Homo sapiens: one gene and its partner. The protein of the gene in region 1 interacts with the protein of each later gene in a biochemical or structural test. Each region holds a gene or a part of one and is shown on either strand. Other genes may lie near its edges.

Region 1 (3,745 bases):
ATCAGGTATGCTTGGACTTGGAGAATTGTGTTTGCCAACTTAAATCAAAAGGAAATAGAAGAGATACAAACACTTGAAATTTAATTTTGTGCCGGGCATGGTGGCTCACACCTGTAATCCCAGCACTTTAGAAGCCCGAGACGGGCAGATCGCCTGAGGTCAGGAGTTCGAGACCAGCCTGGCCAACATGGTGAAATCCTGTCTCTACTAAAAATACAAAAATTAGCCGGGCATGGTGGCGGACACCTGTAATCCCAGCTACTTGGGAGGCTGAAGCAGGAGAATCACTTGAACTCGGGAGGCAGAGGTTGCAGTGATCCAAGATCGCGCCATTGCACTCCAGCCTGGACGACAAGAGTGAGACTTCGTCTCAAAAAAAAAAAAAAAATTAATTTTGAGTCTAAACATGACAAGTAGAGAATCTAGAAAATATAGGCAAAGGCTACTGGTTCAGACAATTCTGTTCAATCTTTGTTCCTTCTCCAACATTCTGCCCAACCCTGGGAAAGAATGCTCCACCCCACTTTTTTGATAATGCTACTTAATTTAGAATGCAGATAAAGATGAGAAGAGATTAGTGTTGCCAAAAATTTTGTTTTGCCAATTTCAGGAACTTTATCACTGATATTTGATATTCACCTTTGATTAACAGCTAAAGAATTAGGATCACCAATTCCTTTACACATTTATTTTCAGTCACATTTTTACAACTAAGTTATAAAAACTAAATTATTTTAAAAGCTGAGAAGCATTTAAGAGAGTATTAAACTTTTTTTGAGGTATATAGAATCTTGAGATGCAAAAGAAAATATTACTATTAATCTAAACAGATGAAATTTATGTTCATTTGTGAACAAGTATTTGCCATGCCTTGAAGATAAATCCCCCCTCCCCACCTCGATTAAAAAGCAAATTTATGTTATGGGCCAGGTACAGTGATTCACACTTGTAATCCCAGCTACTCAGGAGGCAGAGATTGGAGGATTGCTTGAGCCCAGGAGTTTGAGGCTGCAGTGAGCTACAGTTGCATCACTGCACACCAACCTGAGTGACAGAGCAGGACCCCTGTCTGTAAAAAAATAAATAAATAAAAATAAATAAATCCTAGCCGGGCACGGTGTCTCATGCCTGTAATCGCAGCACTTTGGGAGGCTGAGACGGGCAGATCACCTGAGGTCGGCAGTTTGAGACAAGCCTGACCAACATGGAGAAACCCTGTCTCTATAAAAATACAAAATTAGCCTGGCATGCTGGCGCATGCCTGTAATCCCAGCTACTCGGGAGGCTGACGCAGGAGAATTGCTTGAACCTGGGAGATGGAGGTTGCGGTGAGCCGAGATCACACCATTGCACTCCAGCCTGGGCAACAAGAGTGAAACTCCATCTCAAAATAAATAAATAAATAAATAAATAAATAAATAAATCTTAAAAATAAAATAAGTAAATTAATAAAATGCAAACTTAATGAGTAAGGCTGATGCTTCGGTTCCAGGTCTTTACATGCACCTAGTAGTTCTAATTGTACAGATGCTTTAAACCAGATGACCAATGAAAGAAAGCTAACTGTTTTTGAGGTGTCTAAGTTTACCTGTGAATGAAATTCTTATCCATCCATGCAGCATCCAGGATTGTTCTAAGAGCAAGGACGCAAAGTTGTAATTCTCTGAGGGAGGGACCATGCCTTCTTGTGCTCACCATTGCTATTTCCAAGTCCTTAGGACAATGGCTGCCATGTAGTGGATGTTCAGTGTGTATTTGTTGAATGAAAGACATATTTTAAAAGGAATATTTGCGATTTCATTAGGTGCTTCTGAGATTAATTAGAAATGGCTAGAGAGTTTATCACTTATTTTATTTGGACTTAAAATACCCACATTTTTTCTACCAAATATAAAAGAATCATTCATTTGGAGAGAGACTGGGGAGTTGGTGACACCCACTTTTGCATGTATTTACCAATTTTTGTGAACAGGGGCTTGAAAACTGTTTTACAAAGGAGATTTTCATTTAAATTTCACTATGCCTTCTTCACCTTCTAGCCAAACCCTCTACTCATACTTCTCAAAAATCCTAGAAGACCGTAATTGTCAGATTGTTAGTATTTTATAGCCTTACGATATGTAGCATAATATAAGAATGAGTGTTGAAATTGTGTTTTTTGCCCTTTTGCAGTTGGGTTCTTTGTTTTACTCTCTTCTCCCCCATAAAATAGCTGAGAAACTTTTTAAAAATTACCTTAACTGCCTGCACTTTGCTTCCCAAGGTGAAGATTCTAAAGACAAAAGGAGTGGCTCTTCTCTGCTTCTGCCTGTTTCTCTGCTCATTTAATGAGAAAAGAGAAAACATCACAACTAAAAGCTAATTTTGAATAACTAACAAAATGTCCACTGCACTTCAGTTCCATTCTTTCTCTTAAACCAGGGAAGGAATGATTTCTAATTAGCACTGAGTGAGCCTAAAAGAACTAAATCCCCTTCATATTAGATGATAAGGGGTTTATATTCACAGGTCTCTGAGAATACTGATACACCTATATCTACAATAGGTGACAAGATCTGGCCAAATTTGGAAAGACAAAAAGAAAACACTGAACACCATGTGAATGTGAATGCCTTTAACAGCCAAGTATTTAAAACTTGTCTCAACAGTACAGTTGCTACAAGGAGCTAATGACTGACTTTTGCTTCACTTCTATAGGACTCTGAGGAGGAAGAAAATGAGCTGGAAGCTATTAACAGGAAGCTAATAAGTTCACAGCCTTATGTACCTGTGGAGTTTGCTGACTTCAGTGTTTACAATGCCAGCTTGGAGAACAGGGAATGGTTTTCCTCTAAAGTAGATCTGTCAAACTCACGGGTCTTGGAGAAAGAAGTGTCCCGTAGCCCTACCACCAGCAGTATTACCAGTGGCTACTTTTCCCACAGTGCCTCCAATGCCACCCTGTCTGACATGGTGGTCCCTTCTAGTGACAGCTCAGACCAGCTGGCCATTCAGACGAAGGATGCAGACTCCACCGAGCACTCCACACCATCGCTTGTGCATGATTTCAGGCCGTCCTCAAACAAAGAGTTGACAGAAGTCGAAAAAGGCTTGGTAAAGGACAAGATAATTGTGGTGCCACTCAAGGAAAACAGTGCCTTAGCCAAAGGGAGCCCATCATCCCAGAGCATCCCTGAGAAAAACTCCAAATCACTGTGCAGGACTGGCTCATGTTCAGAACTAGATGCCTGCCCCAGCAAAATTAGCCAGCCAGCCAGGGGATTCTGCCCCAGGGAGGTGACGGTAGAACACACCACCAACATCCTTGAAGACCATTCTTTCACAGAATTTATGGGAGTGTCAGAGGGAAAAGATTTTGATGGTTTGACAGATTCTTCTGCTGGAGAGCTTTCCAGTAGGAGGAGTCTACCAAATAAAACAGGCGGCAAGACTGTCTCCGATGGGCTCCACCACCCCAGCCAGCTGCATTCCAAGTTAGAGAATGACCAGGTAATAATTCCAGAGGCAGCCTTTTGGGTTCTGTGCTGTCAATGAGTATGTCTAACTGTATGTCAACCCCAGAGGCCCTTCACCGCAACAACTTGGTAGGAAAGATTCATCCAGTTGTTTGTGACAGCAAAGATGAGCCCACAGAGAAGCAGGCTCACTTCCTGCACAGCTGTCTCTGTCGGAGAGCAAGTCTGTTTTGGGAACTAGAACGCAATTGTGAAATTATAAGACCAGTGGATTTTTTTACCTGGCACAT
Region 2 (3,745 bases), on another chromosome or scaffold:
CGGCAGCGTGGGGCATAGGGACGGCAGAGAACAGCTCTGGGGTGGGCCAGGCTGGAAGCTTAGCAGGTGGGCCGGGCACACCTGCACCCACTGGGAGGGGAGGACCACTGAAGGACCCAGCAGGCCAAGGAAGTCCCCTCTTCCTCCTGCCAGGCTGGGAGGCCCAGAGGGTGGCTGGAGAGGGGCCCTGAGTCCAGAGAAGCTGCTCCCAGGCTGTGTGGCCAGGGAGCAGAGGTTCAGAGGCAAGCCCAGCTCCCCTCCCCGTGGGCCACAGCAACCCCAGGCCAGGCCCTTTCCCACTGGCTTTCCTGGGGAGCGTTCCTGAACAGGAGGAAATAAAGGTCTGTGGGGAGAGAGTCTGGGGTGAGCCAGCCCAGGGGGCCACCCCCACCGCACCATTGCACGGGCCCTGTGGCCGTCCTGTCTCAGGAGACCATGGAAAGGCCGTGGGTCCTGCCTGTCTTTCCAGAAAAGCCTGTCGCTATCTCCCCTCTGGGACACCCCAGCTCCTGATGTGGCCTTTCCAGCCAAGCTGCAGCTGGACAGCAGCCACCACGACCTGGGGCTGGCAGAGACCCCTCCATCCCAGAGGGAATCAGGGACACCCCTTTTTCCGGGGTGTCCAGAGGCTGCATATTGAACCAGGGCCTTGGAGGCAAATGCAAGGTCTTCCCCCGCTCCCTCCCTGGGGGCCTCAGTCACCGCCGGTGAGTTTAGGTTTGTTCCGAGGGGCTTAGACTATTGGCCCCCAGATTCCTGGTGTGCCTGGGGTGGCGGGACTGCTCCGGCGGGGCCCTCTCTCCACAGCGCAGCCGGCCTGGGGCTGACAGCTCCCGAGCAGGGCAGGGCTGGTCTGGGCACTGGGCCCCGTTCACAGCCAATGACAGGACCAGTGGCCTGGAAGGGAGGGACTCCGCGCCTTTGGACTCCAGTGCCTTGAAATCCCACAGACCTGGGAACCGAGTCAGGGATGCCCGGCCGGGAGAACGAACGGGCGGGCGGCGGGTGGACCAGGACCTGCGTCCGGCCCCACCTCTCCCAGGCCTCACCTGTCCTGGCGCCCGCCCCGGAGCAGCCAGGTGCAGGGAGCCGGGGGCAGGGGCGCCGCTCACACCCAGGGACCCCCGGTGCGGGAAGGGCGTGAGGCATGACGTCACCGCGAGGTGGCCCCGGAGCCGGCGGACCCCACAGCCCAGCAGAGACCTCCGGCTGGCGGCCCGTTCCCTCCCTGCAGCCAGCCCCGATTTCCTCTTTCTGTGCGGAGCCCGAGCTTTCGCAACGCGGCGGGCGGTCCGCGGTGACCGTCAGACACGCAGCCCGGCGGGGGAGGGGAGGCGGCGGCAGGGGGGTTTCCGGGGGTCCTGGGGGGGGCCCCCCCGCTGCGCCCGGCCCGGGAAGACGTCCGGGTCCCCGCAGGTGCAGCCGGGCCCGGGCCCCATCCGAGCGCCGATCCGGCCCGGTGTTCAGCGCCGCCACCCCCGCGGCGTCCGCGCTCCCCCGCCCGGTCCCCGGGGCCCACCCAGGACCCGCCCGGCACCCCGCGCCCACCCCGGACCCACCCGGCCCCGCGCCCACCCGGCCCACACCTACCCGGGGCGCCGCAGTCCGCGCAGCGCGCGTTCCCCGGCCGCTGCAGCAGCTCCAGGACCGCCCTGCGCCGCTCCTTGGCCATGGCCGCGATGCGCCCGCGATGCCGATGCCGGGGCCGGGGCCGGGAGCGTCAGCCCGGCTCGCTAGGGCCCCGCGCAGGCCGCCCGCCGCCGCCGCCCCTGCGCCATCCCGGGCGGCCTCAGCCCGCGCGCCGGTTCCGCATTCCCGCCGCCCTCTGGGCTCCGCCGCCGCCGCTCGTGTCTCCGCCGCGGTCGCTGAGCGAGTGCCGGCGCGGGGCCCGGGGCGCACGCTGCGCTCTGGCCGGCAAGGCCCGCGGGCGGCCCCCAGCGGTGCAGGCGAGCGTGTGGCCTCCTCCCTCGGCCGCTCCGGCGCCCCCAGCCCGCGCGCCCCGGGGACCCGCTGGGAAATCGCCCGCCGCCCGCCCCCCATCCGCGCGCAGCGTCCCACCTGCCTGGGCGCGAGGCCGCCCCAAAACCTGGCCGGCCTGGGTGGGACCCTCGTGCCGCCGCGCGCGGTGGGACGGAGCCTGCACACCTACTGTGGGGGGCGCAGAGGGCACCTGCCGAGCCCCCCAAGACCATGGGCATGGGGGTGCTCGTGGAAGGCAGGTGTGCGTGTCCTGTGCTACGGACCAGGACCAGGGCGCTCACACCATCCCTGCCTGGGAGGGACGGCCAGCAGGTGACAAACGCCAGCGTCCCAGGGCACTGAGGCCACACAGGGCCCAGACGGAGCCTCCCCCTGAGACCCACCCAGCCGCCCACCACCCACAGATGGGACCCTCTGGGCACCCCTCCCACTCAGGCAGGCTGAGGGGCCCCGCCGGGACTTCACATGGGGGCTGACAGGTAACAAAAAACCTGGTTTTGATGTCACCTCTTCCCAGACTCGCGTGCCCTTCCTCTGCACACCCCAGCATCTTTTCAAATTCTTTCCATTTTCTTCTTGCAGGGTTAATGCAGTACACCCGGCTGAAAACAAACTGGAACATACCAGACTGAAAAAGGAAAGCCTCTCCCCACTGCCTTCCAGGCAACCACTGTTAACAAATTCCTCAGCACCTTCCAGAACGAACGTCTGAGGCCTGTAGCCTTTCATTTATTTATTCATTTATCGAGACAGGGTTTTGGCTAACGGCTGTAATCCCAGCACTTTGGGAGACCCTGGCGGGTGGATCACTTGAGCTCAGGAGTTTGAGACCAGCCTGGGCAACATGGTGAAACCCCGTCTCTACTAAATACAAAGAAATTAGCCAGGCGTGGTGGCGCATGCCTGCAATCCCAGCTACTTGGGAGGCTGAGGCAGGAGAATCGCATGAACCTGGCAGGCAGAGGTTGCAGCGAGCCGAGATTGCGCCATTGCACTCCAGCCTGGGCAACAAGAGTGAAACTCCGTTTCAAAAAAAAAAAAAAAAAAAAAAAACCAAACAAACAAACTCAAAAAAAGTTCAACTGAACCATGACTTGTTCACCCAGTCACTGGCATAGGGGCATTTAGAGCGTTTTGAATGCATCAGAATCATGGTCTACACAACCTCATCTTTGCAAGAGTTTTGTGTGGATTTGCTCTCAAAGTGGCATCGCTGGGGCAATGGTATGGGATGTGGAATGGCCTCCACTGAGGCTGCACTGACCAGAGTGCCACCAAAGGCACCTGTCCCCCTGCTCCAGCTGACGTGGAATCATGGAGCTGCTTAAGCTCTGTCTACCTGAAGCAGAACGCGGCAGCCCGTTTTGGTCTGTGTCTCTGGGATCTGTGCCCTGTGGCATCACGTGCTCTTTCCCTGTAACCGTTCACATGGGTCTTTCTCCTCCCTCAGACGGGAGGCTTTGGGGTGGGGACAGGTGGCATTTTCATCTCTGGGTCCCTGTGCCAGGCTCGGAATCCACCACACAGCATGAGCTTGGAGAATGTCGCCTAATAAAGACAGACGAACATTAATAGCAGCAGCTCAGCACTAGGTATTAGGAGAAATAGCCTGACTTGTATTTTCTATTTTCTTTTCTTTTCTTTTCTTTTTTTCCTTTTTTTTTTTTTTTTTTTGAGACAGGGTTTTGGTCTATCGCCCAGGCTGGAGTGCAGTGGCACGATCTTAGCTCACTGCAACCTCTGCTTCCTGGGGTCAGGTGATTCT

The links. Proteins that work in one complex are often made in the same cells at the same time.
Region 2: the proteins of KIF13A (region 1) and ADAP1 form a complex in vitro, tested with the Homo sapiens proteins (one study listed by IntAct).

Annotation. Positions count from the first base shown.
Region 1 is NC_000006.12:17,763,899-17,767,643, reverse strand, and holds part of KIF13A (kinesin-like protein KIF13A), read left to right. Parts: intron 1-2,697; coding exon 2,698-3,534; 3' UTR 3,535-3,745. UniProt on the Homo sapiens protein: Plus end-directed microtubule-dependent motor protein involved in intracellular transport and regulating various processes such as mannose-6-phosphate receptor (M6PR) transport to the plasma membrane, endosomal sorting during melanosome biogenesis and cytokinesis.
Region 2 is NC_000007.14:952,806-956,550, forward strand, and holds the start of ADAP1 (arf-GAP with dual PH domain-containing protein 1), read right to left. Parts: upstream 1,876-3,745; 5' UTR 1,673-1,875; coding exon 1,591-1,672; intron 1-1,590. UniProt on the Homo sapiens protein: GTPase-activating protein for the ADP ribosylation factor family. Binds phosphatidylinositol 3,4,5-trisphosphate (PtdInsP3) and inositol 1,3,4,5-tetrakisphosphate (InsP4). Regulates the incorporation of CD63 and CD9 into multivesicular bodies.